Homo sapiens: one gene and its partners. The protein of the gene in region 4 interacts with the protein of the main gene of each other region in a pairwise test. Each region holds a gene or a part of one and is shown on either strand. Other genes may lie near its edges. The genes, in order: ATF6, NEK3, EGR2, BPGM and EHD2.

Region 1 (3,754 bases), on a different chromosome or scaffold from region 4:
TGTGTTACTATGGTTTTTTAGTTTCCTTTTTTTATTGGCTGCTGCTTCACAGTAATCTTTGTGGGCTCTTTTTTTACCCAACTCTCAAGGTTTGGAACTGTAAACTTTTTTTATTTTCTTTCTGCCTAGGTGACTCATCTATAATTTCATGCACAGTTCATATCTATATGTCCTGATGACTCTCAAATTTATGTTTTCAGTCCAGACTTCTCTTCTGAGTCTCCAGAGTCACATATCCAATAGTCTCTTTGACATCTCTGTTTTAACATTTCAAACTTAACATGTGCACTGTGGAACTCAGTTCCTCTCCCTGTTTTACTTCCAACCAATTTTCTACAACTGTGTTTTTTCCTTTCCATTGCTTAAGCCAGAAATCCTGATTCCTGTCTTTCAACAAGTGTTGTTGATACTCTTCCCCAAAATTGTCTTGAATTGGTCCACTCCTCTCCGTCTCTGCTGCCACAAACCTAGTCCATGCCATCATCAGTTCTTGCCAGGATTGCCATAGCTCTTTCCTAATCAGTGTCTCAGCTTCCCCTTTTGCCTCCATTGAGTCCATTTTTGGTACCATGGCAAGGTATGAATGTAAATTGAAATATATCACTTCTTTATTTGAAACACTTTTATGACTTCTTATTACATTTAGTAATTCCTTATTATGACCTGGTCTTTTATTATGACCTTATTATGATTCCTTTCCAGCCTCATCCTGTTCCCTCTCTACCTCCCCACTTGCTTGCAACTCTTCAGCCAGTGGTCTTTTTAAAGTTCTTTGAGCCCACCTTTCCCCCACCTGCCTCTTTTATGCCTAGAATGCTCTTACCCCAGTTTCTATAGAGGCGGCGTCTTCTCATCATTTAGGCCTTGATGTAACTACCATCTCCTTCTCGGACCATTTTATCTAAAGTATATACTACCATTGCTTTTCCATTTCAACCATTTGTTTGTTTCTTTCATAGCACTTACTAGAGTTCGGATTATTTTATGCATTTATTTTCTTCTATTTGGTCCATCTTCCCCATTAAGGTCTTTGGGGACAGAAACTTTGATTCTCTCATTCCCTACTGGATTCTCAGCACCTAGCACAATACCTGGTGCACAGTTGGTATGCAGCAAGTATTTGTTGAATGAATAAATGAAAAGTGTGAGTCTCACTATGTTCAGTTTTATATGTTTACATGTTTTCTTTTGAGATATTAGCATATCTAGTTTTCTAAATCCAGATCATCCTATATAAAGAAATTCAAGAGAGATGCAAGCTTTGTTAGTGAGAGAGATTAAGATTGCAGACTGAAGAGCATAAATAACAGTAATATCCCCATCTCAAATTCTAACTTTCAACTCCAGTTTTGCTCCCTACGTCACACCTTGGATATGAATTCACATGATCTACATCAGTGCGATGGCTAGGAAAGTATATATTTTTGAAGCAAATGGAGTAACTAGTTAATGTCAGTCACTCTGTTGTTTTATTAGTGATTCACATTCTTCCATGATCCCATAGTTTATATTCGGCTTTTCAACTCTTTCACTTTTCTCCTGCCAAGCATTTTATGTCTCACCCTATCCTTAACATACACACACACACACACACACACACACACACCCCTACCTGTTTTACAGATACTATCCAGTTTTATCATAGAATTGTGTCTCACCCTATCCTTAACACACACACACACACACACACACACACACACACACACACACCCCTACCTGTTTTACAGATACTATCCAATTTTATTATCATAGAATTGTGAATGACCCCTAAACTTTAGTCTGGTCACATAATACCACTTGATTTTCGCCTCAATTACCCCGTTACTGTGTTACTACCTCTGTACCAGCAGCATTGTGCATGTCTTAAGCTCATTGAAGATATGATGAACCATGTGTTATTGTATCGCTTATTCCAAATTAATTGCTCAATAAATGGTGATTAGACAAATGTGAATTACCATCCTGTCTCTGTAGAAAATCAGAAAATGACATTTCATGTAAAATAAGGTTTTGTATTTTATACTTTATCTTGCAGTATATTCTGTTTACTATATTTTTGTTTCCATGAAAAGTTAACACTAATGATGATTTTCTTATAGCAAACTTCTTAGGAATTTAAGATACAAGGAAACAAATTTTGTGCATCCATGTTTCAGATATGATCATTCTGTTTCAAATGACAAAGCCCTGATGGTGCTAACTGAAGAACCATTGCTTTACATTCCTCCACCTCCTTGTCAGCCCCTAATTAACACAACAGAGTCTCTCAGGTGAGTGTTGTAGATTATTGCAGAAACATCTGAGTTGGTTCCCATGTTTAGTTTTGGAACCTAGACAAGTAATTGGTCAAGTTCACTAAGTGACTGAGAGAATCTCTGAATTATTTGTGGATAACTGTAGGCATATTAGTTGTCCAGTTTCTCCACCAACCTCATGGAGATGGTGATGGGTCTATTTTATGTGATAGTTGCTTACTTAAATATGTCTTCTTTAAAAACTACAGAATGAAATTAATATTAAAATTTCATGGTGTTAGGCTTACAGTTGGTAACATTCATAGCAGAAAGTACCTTTTTCTTCCAATTAGGAAGATAATAATTTGTGGGTATGTGATTCTGGAGATACTTTACCGTTAGTACACACTTCTTTATCAATTTTTCCCTTGAATTTTTTTTTCCTGTGATTTTGGACCTTACCCTTAAAACCTCAAAAACTACCTCAGATTTTTTGTGATATGTAGTAATCAACTACAGTTAAACATAGTTTAACATCTTCACAGCTGCTGTAAAAAGTAAGCAAAATAAGGGAAGTTATATATGAGCTATGCTTTTATTTCGTGTGTTGAAAAATTTGAATTTTTTTTTACCCCAGGCAATTGAGTTCATTCTTTTTCTTCTCCCAAAAGAGCATGATTTTCAAGAGGTTTTAATGCATCTATTTGTTGTTAGGGGTCCTATGACTTGTTAAGTTCTCTACAATGTGTCTCAAATGTTTGTGTTTATATAGCCCAAGAACAGAAATAGGAAATACTTTTTATTTTGTTTTGTTTTATTTTATTTTATTTTTAGACAGGGTCTTGCTCTGTTGCTCAGGCTGGTGTGCAGTGGCTGGATCATAGCTCACCGCTTCCCCAAACTCCCAGGCTCAAGTGATCCTCTTGCCTTCGCCTCCTGAGTAGCTGGGACTACAGGCACATGCCACCATGCCCAGTTAATTTTTTAAAAAAATTTTCTGTAGAGACAGGGTCTCACTGTGTTGCGCAGGCTGATCTCAAACTCCTGGGCTCAAGCAGTCTTCCCACCCCAGCCTCCCAAAGTGCTAGGATTACAGGTGTAAGCCACTGTGCCTGGCAAGGAAATACTTTTTTTGGTGGAAAAACCTTAGCATCCAGTGTTTATATTTGGGAGGTATTTAGCTGTAGTTTTCTTTGAAGTTTGAATGCATGGTTGACAGGTTTACCATGTAAAAATGCATGTCTTATTAAAAACAACGTTAAGTGTCAACTTTTTCAAATCAAAAAGCAATATTGAGTCATCAGGCACTTGGAATGCTCTTTGGAACCTACAAATGATTAGATTCATTTCCACCCACAGGGTGAAACATCCATTTCTATGTTTAATTAATTTCTATGTTTAATTAATTAAACTATATTTTATAGGTTAAATCATGAACTTCGAGGATGGGTTCATAGACATGAAGTAGAAAGGACCAAGTCAAGAAGAATGACAAATAATCAACAGAAAACCCGTATTCT
Region 2 (6,144 bases), on a different chromosome or scaffold from region 4:
TCTGTCACTTAACAGTGGTAGCTCACTTACAGCAGAGATTTCAAAGCCTCCTACACTCAAGAATGACATCAGAATCTTGGAGGAGTAGTGGTGAGGGGCAGCTGTGAAAAGCCCCCCAGGGGATTCCAGTCTTTCCTTCCCATTGAGGATCACTGCTTTCTGTGTCTGCAGCAGCCTCCCACATTCCTCTGGGCGCTATTCAACTCTGCCTTCATTGCCATCGTCCTTTGCTGGCCTGCACACAAGTTTTCCTACCTCAAGTCCTCCATTCCCTGACTGACTTTTTGGCCTTTTCTCCATTTTGTTTACATGTTGCACCCTTTTCATTTTGCGAACACATATTGCTGTGTTCACTACAGGTGGTATCAAACTATAGCGTGTGGGCACAGATCATCTGCAAAGGGCACAAGGAAACATTTTAGGGGATGGAAATTCTTTTCTTTTTGAGACAGAGTCTTGCTGTGTTGCCCAGGCTGGAGTGCAGAGGTGCGATCATAGCTCACTGCCCTCCTCAACTTCCCAGGCTCAGGCGATCCTCCCGCCTCAGCTTCCCAGTAGCTGGGACTACAGGCATGTGCCACCATGCCCACCTAAAATTTTTAATTTTTTGTAGAGATGGGGTCTCATTGTGTTGCCCAGGCTTGACGCAAACTCCTGGCCTCAATCAATGCTCCTGCCTCTGCCTCCCAGAGTGTTGGTATTACAGGCGTAAGCCACTCTGCCCCACCTGGAAGTTCTATATGATGACTGTGGCAGGGGTTATATGGATATTTAAATACCATCACCAAAATTTATCAAATTGTGCATAAAAATGGGTAAATTTTGTGGCATGTAAATTATACCTCAAAAACTGGAAAAAACAGACATTACAATGAAAAGAAAAAAAGTATAGAGGTCTGTATTCCATTTGTAGCAACATAATGGTGGGGTGTTGTTATTTATTTAGAACCTATGGTTCATTCAAAAAATTTAAAAGTTTAATTACTAGTACATTCCATGAAGAGAGCAATTTGTTGTCATACAACATCTTTTCCTTTTTGAATTGAAAGGTTAGGCCAGGTGAAGTGGCTCACACCTATAAATCCCAGCACTTTAGGAGGCCAAGGTGGGAGGATCACTTAAGCCCAAGAGTTCAACACCAGCCTGGGCAACATAGTGAGACCTCATCTCTATAAAAAAGTTAAAAAATTATCCGGGCATGGTGGCATGCACCTGTAGTTCCAGCTACTCAAGAGGCTGAGGTGGGAAGATCCCTTGAGCCCAGGAGGTTGAGTCTGCAGTGAGTGGTGTTTACGCCACTGCACTCCAGCCTAGACAACAGAGAGAGAGAGAGAGAGAAGGAGAGAAGGAAAGAAAGAAAGGTTGACTGAAATACTGAAAAAAACATCAATAGTACACAATTTGCTAAGGGGGGTGTGACAACACTGAAACATGGATCGGCTGTTAATATCCACAGCTTTAGGGAAGCTTCAGTGTAAAAGAATGTCACAGTTGCCCAGGGCTAGATGAACAGGACCCCGAATGCCAGCCTGAAAATTGATTCTTGGGATAACAAGGAGGTGCTACAAAGCATTGAACAGAAAAATGTTAAGATCTAAATAGTAATCTAAATGTTACTCAGCTTCAGCACAGCAATAAAAAGGAATGAAGTTTTGACACACAGAAGAACTTAAAAACATTATGTAAGTGAAAGAGGCCAGACATAAAAGGACAAATATTGTATGATTCCACTTACATGAAATACTTAGAATAGGCAATTTCACACAAAGATTTGAGCAGCTACCAGGGGCTACCAGATTTGAGATTAGAGGCTGCCAGGGGCTGCAGTGGTGGAAGAGGGAGTTATTGCTTAACAGGTACAGAGTTTCTGTTTGGGATGATAAAAAGTTTTGGAAATAGACAGTAGTGATGGTTGCACAGTATTATGAATGTAATTAACACCACTCAATTGTACACTCAGAATTGGCTAAAATGGCATATTTTATGTTATGTATATTCTACCACCATAAAAAAACAAAAAGCAGGCCAGGTGTGGTGGCTCATGCCTGTAATCCTAGCACTTTGGGAGGCCAAGACAGGCAGATCACATGAGGTCAGGAGTTCAAGACCAGCCTGGCCAACATAGCAAAACCCCATCTCTACAAAAAGACAAAAAATTAGCTGGGCACGGTGGCTCGTGCCTGTGGTCCCAGCTAACCAGGAGGCTGAGGCATGAGAATTGCTTGAACCCGGGAGGCAGAGGTTGCAGTGAGCCGTGATCACGCCACTGCACTCCAGCCTGGGTGGCAGAGGGAGATTCTGTTTCAAAATAAACGAACCAAAAAGCAGCCAGGCCCAATGGCTCACACCTATAATCCCAGCACTTTAAGAGGCCGAGGCGGGAGGATCACTTGAACACAGGGGTTTGAGACCAGCCCAGGTAACATAGCAAAATCCCATCTCTTTAAAAAAATGCCAAAAAAAAAAAAAAAAAAAGCTAGGCATGGTGGCACATGCCTGTAGTCCCAGATACTTGGGAGGCTGAGGTGGGAGGATCACTTGAGCCCAGGTGTTCGAAGATGCAGTGAGCCATGTTCACGTCATTGCACTCCAGCTTGGATGCCAAAGTGAGACCCTATCTCAAAAAAAAAAAAAAAAAAAAGCCAGGATAACACAAGATTTTCATGACTGAAAGCAAGACAAAATTCTTCCACATCTGTATTGAAACCACTATCATCAATAATCAAAAATGGAGGCCGGGCACGGTGGCTCACGCCTGTAATCCCAGCACTTTGGGAGGCTGAGATGGGTGCATCACAAGGTGAGGAGATCGAGACCATCCTGGCTAAAACAGTGAAACCCTGTCTCTACTAAAAATACAAAAAATTAGCTGGGCATGGTAGCGGGTGCCTGCAGTCCCAGCTACTCAGGAGACTGAGGCAGAAGAATGGCATGAATCCAGGAGGCGGGGCTTGCAGTGAGCCAAGATGGTGCCACTGCACTCCAGCCTGGGTGACAGAGCAAGACTCCATCTCAAATAATAATAATAATAAATGGAAAAATAAACAATAAATGGCGACCTAAAGTGGCTCAGCTGACAGTGCAGATGAACAGCTACCAGTTATTTCCCATGCCAAAAAATGAAGGAAGAAGTACTTAACTAGAGGGACCAGGTCACAGTCTTCCAAATATCTTATGGCACTTAAGGGTAACCCGGTATCCAGGAGGTAGATATTTCATAAACGTATTTTTTTTCTTTTGAGATGAAGTCTCGCTCTTGTCGCCCAGGCTGGAGTGCAATGGCGCAATCTAGGCTCACTGCAACCTCCGCCTCCAGGTTCACTTGATTCTCCTGCCTCAACCTCCCGAGTAGCTGGGATTACAGGCTTGCACCACCACGCCCGGCCACCGCGCCCGGCCTCATAAAAGTAATTTTAAAGCACTTACCACTGTGCTTGCTTCATTTCCCAAAGCTATCCTGATTCTGCTGGGGTTTGCTTTTAAAAGAGAGAGAGAAGGTAGAAAGATAAAACACATAAAGGATCATCCTATTAAGTTCCTAATATGATTTTCATACAGCTGGAGAAGTGAGTGAGGTTATTAAAGTCAAAGAGCCAAAGCTCTCTGATATCCTGAATGGGAATAACAAGCTTTAATCACCTAATAATACATCTCAGTTATTGAAAGAGGCTATTTCCACTGTTTCATTCCTAAAGTTAAAATCCAAAAGTTAAAAGACATCTCTATTCACTTATGCCAACCCATTTAAGCACTAAGAGGTAACATACTCTGCATACTTAAGGTTATTTTCCCCTTTGGTGCATGCTAGCTAGTGGAGTCCGTGCTTTTCCTGTTAGCTATCACAGCTGGTGGAATAAGTATCCCTAAAAAGAAGTGAGCTGTTTATTAACTCAGAAGAGACCAGCAGGAGGAGTCAGGAGAGAACCCTGGCAATTGATCCCTTTGGTAGGAATGGCTATGCCTCATAGTGGTTCATGTCCCTTATTCATTCAACGTTTTAAAAAATTGCTATTGAACATGGATGATGATGCACTGAGAATACAAGAGTGAGCAAATCAGATGCAATCCCTGCCCTGTTCCATTTCATTATTCTGGTCTGTCTACAGATTAAACTGGAGATGCCATCAGACATATGGTCCCAGTCTGGTGGCATTTCTCTAACTACTTATTCCTCTTTTTAGAAACTGTAACACTATACTTTTTTGGCCGGGTACGGTGGCTCATCCCTGTAATCCCAGCACTTTGAGAGGCCAAGGCTGGTGGATCACCTGAGGTCAGGAGTTTGAGACCAGCCTGCTCAACATGGTGAAACCCTGTCTCTACTAAAAAAAAAAAAAAAAAAAATTAGCCAGGTATGGTGGCGCATGCCTGTAATCCCAGCCACTCTGGAGGCTGAGGCATGAGAATTGCTTGAACCCAGGAGGCAGAGGTTGCAGTGAGTTGAGACTGCACCACTGCAGTCCAGCCTGGGAGACACAGTGAGACTCTGTCTCAAAAATAAAATAAAATAAAGTTAATTTAAAAAAAACCCTACATTCTTCCAAACTACCTTGAAATTTTTTTGTCTCTTTTTTTCTTGCCCAGCATTTTAAAACTAATTTCCCACTACCTTGAGATGTGAACAAAAGCCACAGAATAACACCTATGCTAAAGCAAACTGGTAAAACAAAGGTAACTGGCTATCTCTTTTTTTTTTTTTTGGAGACGGAGTCTCGCTCTGTTGCCCAGGCTGGAGTGCAGTGGCGCAATCTCGGCTCACTGCAACCTCCACCTCCCAGGTTCACGCCATTCTCCTGCCTCAGCCTTCTGAGTAGCTGGGATTACAGGCACCTGCCACCACGCCCAGCTAATTTTTTGTATTTTTAGTAGAGACGGGGTTTCACCATGTTCGCCAGGATGGTCTTGATCTCCTGACCTCATGATCTACCCGCCTCGGCTTCCCTAAGTGCTGGGATTACAGGCGTAAGCCACTGCGCCCAGCCGCTATCTCTTAACTAATGGAGAAAAGGTTGAGTTATAAGACTGAAGGGTTTGCATCCTTCCAAAAACAACACTTAAAAGTTAAGTTTAAGAAAACAATACAGTTCTCAAAATGTTTCTTTTGTAGTATCTGCATATAACATTATGATAAAGAGCACCAGGCAATAGAGGTTTTGCAACATGTCCCAGCAGTGAATGATCTCCTACACTTCTTAATTCTTCTCCTGTATTCCATTCATAGCTACTATCTCTGTTGGATTTCTTCAGAAGGAAATCACTGATGAGAAATGAAAGCGAATAAAAATAGCTTTGAAAAAATTCAGAGATGACAACTTCCAAAGAGACAATAAATTAAATTTGATATTTTCTCAGGATAGGCTATAGATGTATGAAAATTTCATGTAGCTATTATGTGGATGATTCACAGCTTTGGAAAAGGCTCTGGTTTTTGTCTTTAATTAGGATATTTTACTGTTTAAGAGCAGATCCACCCAGCACTTTGGGAGGCCGAGGTGGGTGGATCACCTGAGGTCAGGAGTTCGAGACCAGCCTGATCAACATGGTGAAACCCCATCTCTACTAAATTCAAAAAATTAGCCAGGCATGGTGGCACATGCCTGTAATCCTAGCTACTTGGGAGGCTGAGGCAAGAGAATCACTTGAACCTGGGGGGCAGAGGTTGCAGTGAGCCGAGATTGTGCCATTGCACTCCAGCCTAGGCAACAAGAGTGAAGCTCCATTTCAAAAAAAAAAAACAAGCAGTTTTAGGTTCACAGCAAAACTGAGTGGTGAATACGGAGAGTCCCATATACCACCTGTCCCCACACACATACCACCTCCCCAATACTAACATGCCACACCATTACAGTCGATAAACCTACTCCGACGCATCACTACCACCCATCACCCAGAGTCCACAGTTTACATTAGAAAAGCTTCTCTTTTTAAAAGTCTGTTTATACGATGGTTCTTCAGAAACTTGGGATACATTTTCCTACAAGATTAGTGCTATATTTTCATGGATAGATTCTTAGGTCAGGCAACAGAAGAAGCCTTCTACCTGACCTACACAACAAGCCAGAGAAAATATGGAACTAATAATGACAGCATAATCTTTCCGTCACTAAAATATCCAAAACTAGGCTTTTTTAAATCCCAATTTTT
Region 3 (4,120 bases), on a different chromosome or scaffold from region 4:
AAGTGATTAGAGATGCTTTCGGCCGTCACTGAGGACCGCGCTGGGCTCACCGAGGTGTTTTTTGGGGAGGGAGAGAAAATATTTATTCTAGTACGTGTATTCTGGCTCGGGTGCGGGCAGGGCGCGGTCCTGGATCCTGGGCTATGGGGGTCAGGGGGATTCTGTGGCTGCAGGGACCGGTAGTGAAGGTTAGGCCAGTGTCTTCATAGAACCTCCTGTCCAGCGAGCCCGGAGCCCGCTCTGCCGCCGGGACACTGCTGGCAACGACGGCGCGCGGACGCAGTCAACAGGGAGGTGTGTAGTGTAAGGTGTGTGAGCGGGTGTGTGAAGAGGGCAGCGGGGGCGGGAGTGTGTAGCGGAAGTGGAGCGAGTGTGAGTGTGTGTGTATGTGTGTCTGGAGGGGCAGGGTGAGTGTCCAAGCTTCCATCTGGACGCCCCCACGCAGCCGACCGCCCAGACGCGCCGGGAAGGGCGCCCGCTCCGCGCAGCAGCTGAAGGGGGGCGGGGAGCGCGCGGGCAGAGGAAGGAGGGTGTCTCCGGCTGAGGATTTCTCTCGAAGCTCCCCACAGTAATTCTGCTCCTCCTAGGGTTTACCCTCCCAGTCCCAAGGTGCCCAAAATACTTAAACAAACAAACAACCCAAACCTGTTCCGTTTTCGCTCCTGTATAAATAGAACAGACTTTCCAAAAAAGCAATACGCATTCACTCTTATCACCAGCCACTTCTTTCCACCAAGTAATTCAGAAAAAAGCAGTCAGCTTCCGTGAATGCATGTAGCTTTTTTTTTCTTCGCTGCCTCCTTTTGCTTGCGGTTTTGAGCTGCCAAGAAAGTGAGTAGGGGTTTGACTGTAGTGTCTCGGCTCCGCTCGGTTTCTTTCCGAAGTTTAATTTTCCGGAATGGCTCCCAAACAAGGGCTAGGGAGGCGGAGCCGCCGGCACCGGATCTTCGCCTTTTTTGGAAAGTCCCAGAGAACCGGAATTCCTCCCCGCCCCGGGAGGCTGAGCCGCAGCCTGGAGCAGCTCGCTCTCCTGCTGTGGCTGTGACTGGGTCCATGGCGCGCCCTCTCCCCCGCGATCCCTGCGCCCCGGACCCAGGCTGCAGCTAGGGCCGCGCGCCCGGGACCCCAGCGATCCCCGCCGCCTGCGAGCTGGAAGTCGCGAGCCCGGCGGAGTCCGCGCGGCCGAGCCCGTGTATGCAAATCAGCCATGTGACGGCAAAAGCCGCCTGGCCCAGCCCTGTTCCTCAGTCCATATATGGGCAGCGACGTCACGGGTATTGAAGACCTGCCCATAAATACTTAGAGCAACACTTTCCGTCTAACTGAGCGAGGAGCAATTGATTAATAGCTCGGCGAGGGGACTCACTGACTGTTATAATAACACTACACCAGCAACTCCTGGCTTCCCAGCAGCCGGAACACAGACAGGAGAGAGTCAGTGGCAAATAGACATTTTTCTTATTTCTTAAAAAACAGCAACTTGTTTGCTACTTTTATTTCTGTTGATTTTTTTTTCTTGGTGTGTGTGGTGGTTGTTTTTAAGTGTGGAGGGCAAAAGGAGATACCATCCCAGGCTCAGTCCAACCCCTCTCCAAAACGGCTTTTCTGACACTCCAGGTAGCGAGGGAGTTGGGTCTCCAGGTTGTGCGAGGAGCAAATGATGACCGCCAAGGCCGTAGACAAAATCCCAGTAACTCTCAGTGGTTTTGTGCACCAGCTGTCTGACAACATCTACCCGGTGGAGGACCTCGCCGCCACGTCGGTGACCATCTTTCCCAATGCCGAACTGGGAGGCCCCTTTGACCAGATGAACGGAGTGGCCGGAGGTAAGCCGCGTGTCTTCGCAGGCCCGGACCTGCGCGGCCCGGAGGTGGTGGATGGGGTGCAGTGGGTGTGCGGGAATCGCAGGAGAGGATTGGGGCTCCAGGTGGACGGTGCTGACTGCACTGGCTTTGAAGACTGGAAGTGGGTGCAGGAGGAACCTGCGACAGCTGAGACCAGGGCGCGCGGGCAGATGCGCCAGGTCGCCAGCAAACCGGCGTGCGTGCGCCCCGGCGCGCCCAGCCCCGGGCGAGCGCAGGGATGGGGGTGGAAGAGGCGTCCCCCCGGGTTTCGAGGCTTGCGTAGGCCCTCTGGCCGGCAGCACTTCGACCTCCCCTCTCCCGGGGCAGGGGCAAAGTGACGGTAAAGTTCGGGGCTCTCGGGGAGAGCTGCGCGCCTGGAGAGCCGAGCGGCGGAGAAGCGCCAGGGGAAAGCGTCGGTAGCTCCCTCCTGGGCAGAGCCGACCCCGGGAAAATCTCGGAGCGCTCCCTTCTTGCGGCCTGGAGGCGCGCCCCCACCTGCCCGCCGCCCGCGAAGTTGAGGGGGTTAGTAAGGCGGGGGCTCCGGCCGGCGGAGGCAGCGAGTGGGTGGTGGAGGAGGGCGCGCAACGGCGGGAAGCAGCCCCCGGACTGCCGAGGGAGGCCCGCGGGGGCACCGGCGACGCCGGTTTCCTTGGCGATGCTGTGGAAAGTCGTCTCTCGCGGCCCCCGCGCCTTCCTCGAGGCCGGGCCACTGGCCTTGGGCTGAGGCGGGGACGCGCGGCTGTCGGGAAAGGCGGAGAAGATTGGGAGGGCACGGAAACCTACGGACTCCTTCCTCTACATCCCCCATTCGCTCCAGCAGCCCTCGGCTGAAGCGCAGCGGGAGAGGGAGGGAGAAAAAGGCACAAGGCGCCGGGGATGGGGAGCAGCCGGGAAATCACCCACCCCCTTCTCGGGCTCTCCTCTCGGTTTGGCACCATCACGGCACTGACTGGGATAGGTCGATTCTTGGGTGGTGTTTGTCTTGGTGCCTCAGCCGTGGAACCCCCAGGCAAAAAAGAGGGAGAAAAGCTCCGGGCGGATGAGGCTTTTTAAAATATTGTTGTTGCTATTATTGGGTGTTTTTTATTGGGGACTAGAGCCACAGATGGCTGGGGGTGGAGGGGAGTTGGGAAAAGCTCATTCTGCTTTTTTGGAGGTAGTTCTTGAGTTCCATACTGTCAATGGGTTGCCACAGTTGGGCTGGCCTCTTCTTACAGTCTGTGGGCCTCAATTTCCCCACCTTTTGGACTTTGCCACAGCTCTACAGTGCTGAGACTCTCGGCCTTGGAAATGGACCTATGTGAGCGGGGGTGAGAAGGGAGTCCTGGCTGTATTTTCATTGTTCCACCTCCATTCTGCCTTTCCCCTCCCCAGATGGCATGATCAACATTGACATGACTGGAGAGAAGAGGTCGTTGGATCTCCCATATCCCAGCAGCTTTGCTCCCGTCTCTGCACCTAGAAACCAGACCTTCACTTACATGGGCAAGTTCTCCATTGACCCTCAGTACCCTGGTGCCAGCTGCTACCCAGAAGGCATAATCAATATTGTGAGTGCAGGCATCTTGCAAGGGGTCACTTCCCCAGCTTCAACCACAGCCTCATCCAGCGTCACCTCTGCCTCCCCCAACCCACTGGCCACAGGACCCCTGGGTGTGTGCACCATGTCCCAGACCCAGCCTGACCTGGACCACCTGTACTCTCCGCCACCGCCTCCTCCTCCTTATTCTGGCTGTGCAGGAGACCTCTACCAGGACCCTTCTGCGTTCCTGTCAGCAGCCACCACCTCCACCTCTTCCTCTCTGGCCTACCCACCACCTCCTTCCTATCCATCCCCCAAGCCAGCCACGGACCCAGGTCTCTTCCCAATGATCCCAGACTATCCTGGATTCTTTCCATCTCAGTGCCAGAGAGACCTACATGGTACAGCTGGCCCAGACCGTAAGCCCTTTCCCTGCCCACTGGACACCCTGCGGGTGCCCCCTCCACTCACTCCACTCTCTACAATCCGTAACTTTACCCTGGGGGGCCCCAGTGCTGGGGTGACCGGACCAGGGGCCAGTGGAGGCAGCGAGGGACCCCGGCTGCCTGGTAGCAGCTCAGCAGCAGCAGCAGCCGCCGCCGCCGCCGCCTATAACCCACACCACCTGCCACTGCGGCCCATTCTGAGGCCTCGCAAGTACCCCAACAGACCCAGCAAGACGCCGGTGCACGAGAGGCCCTACCCGTGCCCAGCAGAAGGCTGCGACCGGCGGTTCTCCCGCTCTGACGAGCTG
Region 4 (6,144 bases):
GATTTCACCATGTTGGCCAGGCTGGTCTCGAATTCCTGACCTCAGGTGATCTGCCTGCCTCGGCCTCCCAAAGTGCTGGGATTACAGGTGTGAGCTACCGCGCCCGGCCTTCTTTTTTTTTGAACTGCCTCCCGTGAGTCCAGGGAATAGCTCTTTCTTAGCCATCTTTGTATTCCAGTAGCACCTCATACACCGCAGATGCTCCCCAGTTGGTGGTGGACTTCAGAGAAGCATAATTCAAACAGTGTCATAGTGGAAGGAGCTCTGAGTTAGAAATCAAGAACATTGGCTTTAGTCCTGAAACTGTTACTATTTGTGTGATCTTAAACAAATCATTTCAACTGTGACTCTTAATTTTTGCATTTTTTTTTTGAGACAGGGTCTCGCTCTGTTGCCCAGGCTGGAGGGCAGTGGCGCAATCTCTGCTCACTGCAACCTCCACCTCTGCCTCCTGGGCTCAAGCGATCCTACCATCTCGATTTTTGCATCTTTAGAAAGCAGATGTTGCATTAAATTATATCTGAGATATAAACTCTGTATTTAAAGTCTGTTTTAAAGTAAAAATTATTAGTATACAAGCAGAATCTCATTGCAGTAAATTCTGTACCATCTATTAGCAAGTAAAAGTTCCCAGCTTCAAGGATATATTCTTGTTTTTTAATTTTTAATTTTTGTGGGTACCTAGTAGGTGTATATATTTATGGGTTACATGAGATATTTTGACATAGGCATGCAATGCATAATCACATCAGAGTACATAGGGTAGCTGTCACCAAAAGCATTTATCCTTTATGTTTCAAACAATCCAATTGTACTCTTTTAGTTATTTGAAAATTTACAATTAAATTGTTTTTTTTTTTACTATAGTCACCCTGTTGTGCTAGCAAATACTAGGTCTTATTGATCTTCCTATTTTTGTCCCCATTACAAGGATATACTCTTTTGTGTTCCTATTTAAACCAAACCAGATTATTGTAGAAAATTTGGAGCATACCGAAGTATAATGTGGCAGAAAAATGTCACTTAGAAGCAACTACTGTTAGTGTTTGGGTAGAGCTTTTAGTCTTTCTTCCTCTTTTGCCTGCTGTGGTTGGTTGAGATTAAGAGGCACATTTTAAGTAATGATTGATGCACCTAAATTCACCTGGCCTTCATCTTTGTGTGTCTGGGGCCTGAAGAACAGAGGTCACAAACGTGTTTGAACCGAATGGTTTCTTGAAACATCCTTGGAATGAAATCTGATATGAAAGATGTTTATATGGGTGGCAGGACAAAAAGTATTACTTAATAACAAAACCCTTCTGCTGAAACTTAGCCACAAATATGAGGAAAACATACTTTGTAAAATATAAATTAAATGTTAACCACTTCATTAAAGCATTTGGATTGCAGAATATTAGTACTTGGTAAGCTTCTGAGACTGTATCTTACCATCACCTTCTTCCATCCCACAATATTTGATTGCATTCCTCCTTCTACCACCTAATTTAAGCATTTCTCCTCTAATTCCTCCCTTCATTTTACTTTATTCCCAGCTTTCGCTTCTGCTCATATCATCGGCAAGGTAGGATTGCTTTGACGGGCCTGAGATCTGTGCCATTATTTATGAGTTAGTCAAAGTCTGCTCCATTCTACCTCTCACTTTTTGGTAGAGTGCTTCACCATAATCTCATTTAATCTTTCTGATAGCCCCCTGAGAACAGTAGTTTCATGATCCTCATCTTTATAGATATGGAACCTGAGGTTCAAAGAATTTAAATAAGTTAAGATCACATTGTCAGTCAGTAGCAGAGCTGGGCTCATATCTAGGTTGTTTTTACTTTAGACTTTTGGAATTTGGTGGACACAGTTTGTGTTGATAAAAGCTACTACCCTGGGGAAGACAATGACCAGAGATAGGAAGGAGGGGTCCGTCATGAGTGGGTGTTGTCCACAGTGGTGATGCCATGCAGGCTGGAACATGCAACATGCCCTGAGCAAATGCACATCTCATTACATATGTATATCTCTTCGCCATGAGTAGGGATCTGCCTGGTATGGTTGGTTATTCTTGTAACAAGCAATCAGTAGGAAATATTAGTAGATGTAAGATTGGGGAATGAGAGGGTTTTAGTGTCTGGAAAACACCTGTAAGTGGTAACATTTGCTCCTGTAAAATGATGTTCTTATAACTGCAAGTACAGATGAAAAAGTTTCTACAAAGCCTTAGGAAAAGTAATAGACCATGGAACACTTTTAGGTACAGTTGTGTTTGAACTTCTAATAGTGAACTTGATTTGGGGGAAGGCATAGTTTGTTAAGACATTAAAAGCCTTGGCCGAGCACGGTGGCTCACGCCTGTAATCCCAGCACTTTGGGAGGCCGAGGCGGGCAGATCACGAGGTCAGGAGATCAAGACCATCCTGGCTAACATGGTGAAACCCTGTCTCTACTAAAGATAACAAAAAAAATTAGCCGGGCGTGGTGACGGTCACCTGTGGTCCCCGCTACTCAGGAGGCTGAAGCAGGACAATGGCACGAACCTGGGAGGCGGAGCTTGCAGCGAGCCGAGATCACGCCACTGCACTCCAGCCTGGGCGACAGAGTGAGACTGCGTCTCAAAAGAAACATTAAAAGCCTTAAGGAACTGAGCCCCAGATTTCATTTCCCTTGAGACCTGTTCCTTTTTACTTTGTTAAAGACATGGTTCTTTTTCTCTGTCCTCAAATAATAGCCAGCCCATCTTCTATAAAGTTAGATTCCTCTTGCAGTGGGGGTTAAAAGTTGCTCAAAGCCACACAATAAGGGGTTTGGACCAAGGAAAACGTCATCTGAGTGTCTAGGGTAGCAACTGACTAATATTTAAATGTGAGCTTTGAATCTAAGTGACTCTGGTTCTATTTGTCTTATTTTATATAACTTCAACATTATATTGCTGATCAAATTTCTTGCTTAAACGTTGGAAATACAAGAAAAACTAGGTTTTTAAGTTGGACTTTACCCTGTAGTTTGTCCTATTTGTCCGTGAGTTGTACCACTAGGGTCTTAGGCATTATTAACTTTCAAACACGTGAGGAAGGGAGGAAGCAAAGTCCCAGGAGTGTCAGTTTGGAAGACAGGATGAGCCTCAGTTATGGGGAGTACTTATAACAGAGGAGCCTCAGTTATGGGAGAAATATAATGTGAAATTATATTTCACATAATTTCATATGTGGAATTATATAGTTTAATGAAGGAGTAGGAAGCAGCAGCAGATGATCATGCTACATTTGTTGAAAGTACTTAGGGATCTCAAAAATATTAAGAGGGGTAACCTTAGTAAATGCAGTGCCTTGCAAGTACATCACTCCCCTATCTACAGTCCCTGTCTTGCCAAAAAGAATGCTAATCTTGAATCATAATTTTATGTTTCAATTTTATGGTGGCATTATGGAAAGAATATTCTTTGCTTTATAGCTAACTTAGATGGAATTTCTATACATTTATAGTGAAAGATCTTTGAAAGTTATAAGTCACCTGCAAAGTATGTTCTTTGATTTGTTTATTGTCAAAGCAATTACATAGCACCTACTCCTGAGCAAGTATACATTCCCCTGAAGTGTGAGGCACTATGGGATAATTTATGAAGATGTCTAATGGGGTAAAGTGTGTCAAAATGACAGATGATATTTTTGAAGGAGATTAACAGGATGAATCCTATAGTTTTCCCCTATAGTTCAATCTTGAACCTATTCCTAAATAATTTAGTTAAGCAAAAGTCAAGTACTCAGACTGATTTAAATGTCTTCAGTATTGCCTTCTGTGAGGAATAAAAACAATTATGAATGGGATTCCATTACTCATGGTACTTGCCGTTCTGGCCAAGAATAAAATCTAGTGATTTCATAATGTTGGGATTATTCTATGACGGGATGCTTAAAGGTTAAAAATGCTGATGTCATTAGTAGATCTAAGTGTGGGATCCAGCTAGGCCAATATCGGCATATTGAGGGCTTCTGGCCTATACCGTTTTTTAAAAAATTTACATTTTTAATTTTAAATTATGGATGCATAATAGTTGTATATATTTATAGGTATATGTGATGTTTTGGTACAGATATACAATATGTAATGATCAAATCAGAGTAATTGATTTACCTCATGCATTTGTCTATTACCTCATGCATTTATTTTTTGTGTGTTGGGAACATTCTAATTCCATTATTTTAGTTATTTTAAAATGCAATAAATTATTATCACCCTATTGTGCTACTGAATACTGATCTTATTTATTCTAACTATAGTTTTGTACCTGTTAACCATCCTCACTTTAACCCCCTCGCTCCTGTTACCTTTCCCTGCCTCTGGCAACCATAATTCTGCTATTGCAATACATTCAATTTTCAAAATTTTTAGCTCCCACATATGAGTGAAAACATGTGAAATTTGTCTTTCCATGCCTGACTTATTTCACCTAACCTTAGGCTCTCCAGTTCCATCCATGTTGTTGTGAATGACAGGGTTTCGTTCTTTTTATGGTTGAATGATATTCCATTGTATATATGTGCCAAATTTTCTTTATCTGTTCATCTGTTGATGGGCACTTAGATTGCTTCCATATCTTGGCTATTGTGAATAGTGCTGCAACAAACATGGAGTGCAGGTATCTCTTCAGTATACTTATTTGCTTTCTTTTGGATGTATACCCAGTGGCGGGCTTGCTGGATCATATGTCTACTACCTGTTTTTGAACAGCCCACAAACTATGCATGGGTTTTACATGTAAAACGGTTGAAATAAATTAATATTTCATGTGCATGAAAATTATATGAAATTCTAATTTCAGTGTCCATACCTGAAGTTTTATTGAAACAGATTTATTCACTTATATATTATGTATGGTGGCTTTCAGCTGCAATGGCAGAATTATACAATTGTACCTAATTATGGCAGAGACCAGTATAGCCTAGAAAGCCTAAAAAATTTGCTATTTGGTGGTTTACAGAAAAAGTTGCTAACATCTGAGCTAAGCTATAGTGTCTTTCACGTTTATCTCCTTCATCTCACTTAAACGGCCATTGTCCTGGTCCAAGTCTTTATTCTGTGTTACCAGAATTATTGCAAAAACCTCTCAGCTAGTGTTCATACTCCTGGGTTTTCCTGTCTATTTCTGTAAGTAAGTGCTGCCTGATCCTGCTAAAATGCATGCTACTAAACTTTTAATGATGTCCCAATATGTATAGAAAAACCTACATGCTTTGGCACAGGCTTTTTTTGTGTCACTATTTTTTCTTATCTTTCTAGGCTAGTCTTCTCCTGCTTCCTTATTATACCCTATACTTACAGTGGCCATATAATTTTCCAAATGGGACACTTAAGTGTGAAAGGGGCCCTAGTAGTAATTATGTTGGGGAAACAGGCCTAAGACAATACTGTTCTGTAATAATGATGCATGTGCCTCTTTCTCCTAACTACCCTCTCTGTCTTGACCTTGCCAAAAGAATGCTAATCTTGAACCATAACTTCAATTTTATGGTGGCATTTATGGAAAGAATATTTTTTGCCTATTAGGCAAATCAGGATGTATGGTTACTCTAGCTATACTCCAACCAGTTTGAATGGGCTCGCCATTTTCCATATGTACCTGTTCCTTTGCCTTCACTCACTGTTCCCCTAGATTGGAATTCCTTTACTTTTTTCTGTAAATCTAAACCTTGCCTTTCCAAATCCAGCTTAAAAAATACTGTGTCCACGAAGCCTTACTCAGAAATATTCTCTCCCATCCCACCTCTCTTTTACTAATGAAGTGCTTTCTCATGGTGTGAATTACTTTGAGTTTTAGGTACACACACACACACACACGTACTGAAGATGAAGACATAATTCTTGTTGGATTACATATTCCTCATAGGCCTAGCATTGGGCCATGCCTAAATGGGATCTGCAAAATGTTTGAAGAATGAATTAATTGGTCAGGCTAGGGCGACTGAGTATTTGGGGCTTTCAATTTATGAGTCATCCATTTTAATGTGATTAAAGCAGTGAGAAAAGGGTTTCCAAGAACTGAAGACTGAGCCTCAGGTTTCAATGTGACAGTGTAGCAAAATGGTTCAGGGCATAGATACAGACTTCTCGAGACTAAATTCCAGCTCTGCCATTTACAGCCTCTGTTACCTTAGGCAAGTT
Region 5 (6,756 bases), on a different chromosome or scaffold from region 4:
CTGTAATCCCAGCTACTCGAGAGGCTGAGGCACGAGAATCGCTTGAGCCCGGGAGGCAGAGGTTGCAGTGAGCCAAGATCGCGCCACTGCACTCCAGCCTGGGTGACAGAGCAAGAGTCTACCTCCAAAAAAAATAGAAAAAATAAATAAAATGTTATAATTATAATAATATAATATATAATATCAGTTTTATTGAGATATAATTCAGAAGCCATGCAATTCACCCATTTAAAGCATACAATTCAGTTGGGCATGGTGGCTCATGCCTATAATCCCAGCACTTTGGGAAGCTGAGGTGGGTAAATCACTTGACGTCAGAAGTTCGAGACCAGCCAGGCCAACATGGTGAAACCCCTTGTCTGCTAAAAACACAAAATTAGGCCGGGCGCAGTGGCTCATGCCTATAATCCCAGCACTTTGGGAGGCCGAGGCGGGCAGATCACGAGGTCAGGAGATCGAGACCATCTTGGCTAACATGGTGAAACCCTGTCTGTACTAAAAATACAAAAAATTAGCCGGGAATGGTGGTGGGCGCCGTAATCCCAGCTACTCGGGAGGCTGGGGCAGGAGAATGGCGTGAACCCGGGAGGCGGAGCTTGCAGTGAGCCGAGATCGTGCCACTGCACTCCAGCCTGTGCGACAGAGCGAGACTCTGACTCAAAAAAACAAAACAAAACAAAATTAGCCAAGTGTGGTGGCATGCACCTGTAATCCCAGCTACTGGGGAGATTGAGGGAGGAGAATAGTTTGAACCCAGGAGGCGGAGGTTGCAGTGAGCTGAGATCGTGCCACTGCACTCCAGCCTGGGCGATAGAGTAAGACTGTCTCAAAAACAAAAACAAAAACCAAAACCCCAAAACTCCTGTTTCTTGGAGATATGATGAGGGTTCGATGAGCTAATACATGCATGCAAAGAGCTCAGAGCGGTGCCTGCACATAGGAATGGCTCAGTCAACATTAGGGATTGTTTCTACAAATGTTTACTGAGCCCCTGCAGGGAGTTGGGCATTGTGCAAAGCCCTCACGGGGCTCATGTTCTCAGGGCAAAGACAGTCCCTTAGGCAGAGAAATGTGGAATATGCAGAGTGGTTGGGAGGGCTGTGGAGAAAAATAGGGCAGTGATAAGAGGTAGAGAGTGGGTTCTACCTTAGCCAGGGTGATCCTGGAGGACTTCTCTGAGGAGGTGACATTTGAGCAGGGACCTGAAGGAGGGGAGAGAGTGAGGCATTCAGATCCCTATGGGGAAAGTACTCCATGGAGAGGAGTCAGCAAGTGCAAAGGCCATGAACTTGGAGGGTTGGGGGTGTGTCTGAGGAATGGTGAGGAGGCCACGGCGGTTGGAGCCGCCTGAGGAAGGGGGACAGGGGAGATGTAGGTGGATCATGCTAGGCTTTGTGGGCCTTGGTGTGGACTTCGGCTTTTACTCTGAGAGAGAGGAGAGCCAGGGAGGGTTGTCAGCTGAGAAGTTTCATCAACTCCCTTAAGTTTTAATATTAATATTATATTTACTTATTTATTTGCGATGGATTCTCACTCTGTCACCCAGGCTGGAGTGCAGTGGCGTGATCTTGGCTCACTGCAACCTCTGCCTCCTGGGTTCCAGTGATTCTGGAACTTGGGAGCCTCAGCCTCCCAAGTAGCTAGGACTACAGGTGCGTGCCTGCATCCAGCTAATTTTTGTTTATTTATTTATTTTTGAGATGGAGTCTTGCTCTGTCCCCAGGCTGGAGTGCAGTGGCGCAATCACTGCAAGCTCCACCTCCCCTGTGTTTAAGTGATTCTCCTGCCTCAGCTTCCCAAATAGCTGGGACTACAGGCGCCCGCCACCACGCCCAGCTAATTTTTTTGTATTTTTAGTAGAGATGGGTTTGCACCATGTTGGCCAGGCTGGTCTTGAACTCCTGACCTCAAGTGATCCACCCGCCTCGGCCTCCCAAAGTGCTGGGATTACAGGCGTGAGCCACCGCGCCCCGTCCTATTATTTTTTTTAGAGGTGAGGTCTCGCTCTGTCACCCAGGCTGGAGTGCAGTGGCACAATCATAGCTCACTGCAGCCTTGACCTCCTGGGTTCAAGCTATCCTCCCACCTCAGCTTTCCAAGTTGCTGGGATCACAGGTGTGCACCCCTGTGCCTGGCTAAATTATTTTATTATTTATTATTATTTTTAATAGACATGGGGTCTCGCTATATTGTCCAGGCTGGTCTTGGACTCCTGGCCTCAAGCAATCTTCCCACCCTGGCCTTCCAAAGTGTTAGGGTTACAGGCGTGAGCCAGGGCGCCCGACCTGTTATTGTTACTATTATTGCTGCTGCTGTTGTGATTCCCGTGTTAAGAAGAGAGACAGACTGGGGAGCAGCCCAACGCTGGAGGTGGAGGCGGAATTCGAACCCCAGGCTGGACGCTGGAGCTCTCGCCCGCCGTGCTAAGGCGTCTTCCCCACTCCCCACAAGGGGGCGCCAGAGGCCGGGCGCCCGGTTTTGAGGGGGGCGCCTCGTCCCGCCCCTCCCTCCTGTCCTCCCTCCCGTCCTCCCCGCTCCGGGCCCCACCCGGCTCAGACGGCTCCGGACGGGACCGCGAGCACAGGCCGCTCCGCGGGCGCTTCGGATCCTCGCGGGACCCCACCCTCTCCCAGCCTGCCCAGCCCGCTGCAGCCGCCAGCGCGCCCCGTCGGTGAGTGCTCCCAGCACCGCAGCTGTCGCCTCCCGACCCCCGCCCAAGCCTGCCCTGGTTCCTCATGCCTGACCCCTGCTCCCTGCCACCCTGTCCCCAGTCTGTAACGGTCTCCCCAGGTGTCCCCCAGTCTTCACCAGTCCCCCCAGTCTGTAACCATGTCCCCCACTCTTCCCACTCCTCCCACTCTTCCTCCCACTCTTCCTCCAGTCTTTCGCAGCCTCTCACACTCCCCCAGTCTCCTCCATCCTCCCCCAACACCCCTCCCTATCCCCTGGGCTAGAAGAGATCCTCTCTGCAGGGTCTCCCTCCACGCCCTCATCCATATCAGCTAACTTGGTCCCTCCAGCCACTCAAGAGCCCCTCTCCTGCCTCACCAGCTCCATCGGCCACCGCTGATAGCATTCTCCCCAGCTCTCTCTCAGGGCCCTCCCTGCCTGGGACACCGCCCAGAGCCCTCTCCCTCTGCCCACATCCCAGATCCTGCCTCTCTTTTCCATTCTTGCCACTCCTTTACGAACTCCTTTTGCTTTTATCTCCCCTACTCCCTGGCCACCCCTTTTAAGTCTCATGATTTTATGGATTTTAGCATATTTGATTTGCAGTTATTTTGATGCTCAAATTGCCCCATGTTTGGCCACTGGGCACCCCTGCAAGCTGGGTCCTCTGTCCCTGTAACATGCCCTATCGGCCTTTGAGCACTTCCTCACCTTCTGACCCAGGCTCACTTGTTCTTCCCTGCCCCCGCCCTGGAATCCACCATTTCTCTAAGGAGTCCCAGGTTCTTTTAGTGGGGAATGGTATTTAGAGACTCCCATCTCACCAAAAGTTGATTCTTTGAAAAGATCAGTAAAATCATAAGCATCAACGGGGAGCAATCGTTTTTGTTTTTCTTTTTTAAAAAAAGCAAATACCCACACCTGTGGCTGATATCGGGAATGAAAGAGGGGACATCACTACAGATCCTACGGTGAATAAAAGGCTAGTAAGGGAAGATAGAGAACACAGTCTGGGTGCTGGAGGTGCTCATTGCTCCTGGGTTGGTCATGGCTAACCTCCCTAACTCAGATCTTTAGACCTATAATAGGATTGCAACCTCTGAGGTCAGGCTGCCTGTGTTTGAGTCCCAGCTTGAGCATTTTCCAGCTAAGTGATCTTGGGTAATTTATTGCTGTCTTCCTGAGCCTCCTTTGCCTTGTTAAAAAAGCAGAGATGAGCCGGCATGGTGGCACACACCTGTAATCCCAACAATTTGGGAGGCTGAGGTGGGTGGATCACCTGAGCTCAGGAGTTCGAGACCACCCAGGGCAACATGGTGAAACCCATCTCTACTAAAAATACAAAAAAAAATTAACTGGGTGTGGTGGTGCATGCCTCTAGTCCCAACTACTTGGGAGGCTGAGGCAGGAGAATCCCTTGAGCCCCAGAGGTGAAGGCTGCAGTGAGCTGAGATTGTATCACTGCACTCCAGCTTGGGCTACAGAGTGAGACTCCATCTCCAAATAAATAAATAAATAAATAAATAAATAAATAAATAAATAAAAAGAAAGAAAAGCAAAGCAAAGCAGGGATGATAATAGACCTACTTTACAGGGTTATAAATGTTAAGTGAGTTAGTACAGTACCTGGCATGCAGTGATCATAAATGTTGCATTATTTTTCTTGTTAACACCCAACAGCCCTCATGACCTGGGTGCACCCAGGCAACCTTCTCAGCTCCATTTCTCACCCCTCCTCTTTGTGCCCCTGTGTCTGGCCACCTACCCAGATGTTTCATGGCTCCCAGTACACCAGGACCTTTCACATCCCCAGACCTTTGCACGCACCGTCCTCTCTGCCTAAATCCCCTTGTCTTGCCTGCTCTTCATGGAGCAGCTCAAAAGTCAACCCTGCCCTGAGTCTTACTGGTGCTGTGGTCTGTTTCTCATGCCCTCCTCTGGATGTCTGGCATGTGTCTGGGTCCTTACTGGGGGCCCTGGGTGGGTAGGGGATGATCTCTGGCTCATTTCTGGGTCCACAGTGCCTGAAGCATGGAGTGAGTGATTTCAGTGAAAAGGTGTCAAATGATGGAAGGGAGAAGGGAGGAAGAAATGAATGAAGCGATTAAGGAATCCGTTTCTTCCAGGCAGCTTCTGCATCCTTCGCCTTGTCCATCTCTTGGTCTTCCACTACCACCATCAATCCCCCTTCTTCAACCATGTCACCATTAATCTTTCTCCTCCTTCAGCTGGTTCGCTACGATCTCCCTATTTTTTTTGAAATGGAGTGTCGCTCTGTCAAGTGCAGTGGCGGGATCTCGGCTCACTGCAACCTCTGCCTCCTGGGTTCAAGTGATTCTCCTGTCTCAGCCTCCCAAGTAGCTGGGACTACAGGTGGCCACCACCAGGCCTGGCTAATTTTTTGTATGTTTAGTAGAGACAGGATTGCACCATATTGGTCAGGCTGGTCTCAAACTCCTGACCTCAGGTGGTCCACCTGCCTCAGCCTCCCGAAGTGCTGGGATTACAGGCATGAGCCACTGTGCCTGGCCTTTTTTTTTTTTTTTTTTTTTGAGATGGGGTCTTACTCTGTAGCCCAGGCTGGAGTGCAGCGGCATGATCATAGCTCACTGCAGCCTGCAGCCTTGAACTCCTGAGCTCAAGCAATCCTCCTGCCTCAGCCTCCCAAAGTGCTAGGACTACAGGCATGCACCACCATGCCCAGCTAATTATTTTTTTTGTAGAGATGGGGGTCTCACTATTTTACCCAGGCTGGTCTTCAACTACTGACCTCAAGCAATCCTCCTACCTCAGCCTCCCAAAATACTAGGATTACAGGTGTGAGCCATCGCGCCTGGCCCAATTCCATTCTTCCTCCTGCCACCTGCCATCCATGCTCTGTGACCACATATTTGTGACCACAAATATCTGTGCTCCTCCTCCTCCTCCACCCATCCTGTCACCCAGACAGTCTACACTCAGACCCCTTTCTTCCTCCTTGGCTGGGCCGCCTATGCTCATGCCCTCTCCCCCTCCCACAGGCAGCTCTCCATCTGCACGTCTCTCCGTGAACCCCGTGAGCGGTGTGCAGCCACCATGTTCAGCTGGCTGAAGCGGGGCGGGGCACGGGGCCAGCAGCCCGAGGCCATCCGCACGGTGACCTCGGCCCTCAAGGAGCTGTACCGCACGAAGCTGCTGCCGCTGGAGGAGCACTACCGCTTTGGGGCCTTCCACTCGCCGGCCCTGGAGGACGCAGACTTCGACGGCAAGCCCATGGTGCTGGTGGCCGGCCAGTACAGCACGGGCAAGACCAGCTTCATCCAGTACCTGCTGGAGCAGGAGGTGCCCGGCTCCCGCGTGGGGCCTGAGCCCACCACCGACTGCTTTGTGGCCGTCATGCACGGGGACACTGAGGGCACCGTGCCCGGCAACGCCCTCGTCGTGGACCCGGACAAGCCCTTCCGCAAACTCAACCCTTTCGGAAACACCTTCCTCAACAGGTGTGCCAGCCGCGAGCCCAGGGCGCATCTTTCTTTTTCTTTTTGTTAAGACAGAGTTTCCGCTCTTTTCGCCCAGGCTGGAGTGCAGTGGTGCGATCTCAGCTCATGGCAACCTCCACCTCCTGGGTTCAAGCAATTCTCCTGCCTCAGCCACCTGAGTAGCTGGGATTACAGACACCCACCACCACGCCAAGCGAGTTTTTGTATTATTAGGTACAGTTGGGGTTTCACCATGTTGGCCTGGCTGGTCTTGAACTCCTGGCCTCAAGTGATCCACCTGCCTCAGCCTCCCAAAGTGTTGGGATTACACGAGTGAGCCACTGCGCCCGGCCCTGGGGGCACGTCTTTCTGTCCCAGGGGTGCATCTTGCTGTCCCCCTTCTCTGTCCCCTCCCTGACTGTGTTTCCCTCCTTCTCAGCCCCAATTCCCTTCTCTCTACCCAGTTCTTCCCATGCCTGTCTCTGCTCTCTTATCCAGGGGAGCACCTAGGCTAGTGAAGTCAGTATGCCTGGTTCAAATCCCGGCCAGCTGGGTGGCCTCAGGCAAATGACTTGACCTCTCTGCCCTTCTTGTAGCCTCATCTGCAAAAATGTGGATCAATCACCTT

Evidence for each region.
Region 1: the proteins of BPGM (region 4) and ATF6 interact in a two-hybrid assay, tested with the Homo sapiens proteins (one large-scale study listed by BioGRID and IntAct).
Region 2: the proteins of BPGM (region 4) and NEK3 interact in a two-hybrid assay, tested with the Homo sapiens proteins (one large-scale study listed by BioGRID and IntAct).
Region 3: the proteins of BPGM (region 4) and EGR2 interact in a two-hybrid assay, tested with the Homo sapiens proteins (one large-scale study listed by BioGRID and IntAct).
Region 5: the proteins of BPGM (region 4) and EHD2 interact in a two-hybrid assay, tested with the Homo sapiens proteins (one large-scale study listed by BioGRID and IntAct).

Annotation. Positions count from the first base shown.
Region 1 is NC_000001.11:161,849,566-161,853,319, forward strand, and holds part of ATF6 (cyclic AMP-dependent transcription factor ATF-6 alpha), read left to right. Parts: intron 1-2,099; coding exon of another isoform or gene 2,100-2,156; coding exon 2,157-2,270; intron 2,271-3,658; coding exon 3,659-3,754.
Region 2 is NC_000013.11:52,137,594-52,143,737, forward strand, and holds part of NEK3 (serine/threonine-protein kinase Nek3), read right to left. Parts: intron 3,477-6,144; coding exon 3,427-3,476; intron 1-3,426.
Region 3 is NC_000010.11:62,813,567-62,817,686, reverse strand, and holds the start of EGR2 (E3 SUMO-protein ligase EGR2), read left to right. Parts: upstream 1-1,320; 5' UTR 1,321-1,657; coding exon 1,658-1,826; intron 1,827-3,218; coding exon 3,219-4,120. UniProt on the Homo sapiens protein: Sequence-specific DNA-binding transcription factor.
Region 4 is NC_000007.14:134,648,326-134,654,469, forward strand, and holds part of BPGM (bisphosphoglycerate mutase), read left to right. Parts: intron 1-6,144. UniProt on the Homo sapiens protein: Plays a major role in regulating hemoglobin oxygen affinity by controlling the levels of its allosteric effector 2,3-bisphosphoglycerate (2,3-BPG). Also exhibits mutase (EC 5.4.2.11) activity.
Region 5 is NC_000019.10:47,710,868-47,717,623, forward strand, and holds the start of EHD2 (EH domain-containing protein 2), read left to right. Parts: upstream 1-2,554; 5' UTR 2,555-2,671; intron 2,672-5,690; 5' UTR 5,691-5,745; coding exon 5,746-6,149; intron 6,150-6,756. UniProt on the Homo sapiens protein: ATP- and membrane-binding protein that controls membrane reorganization/tubulation upon ATP hydrolysis. Plays a role in membrane trafficking between the plasma membrane and endosomes. Important for the internalization of GLUT4.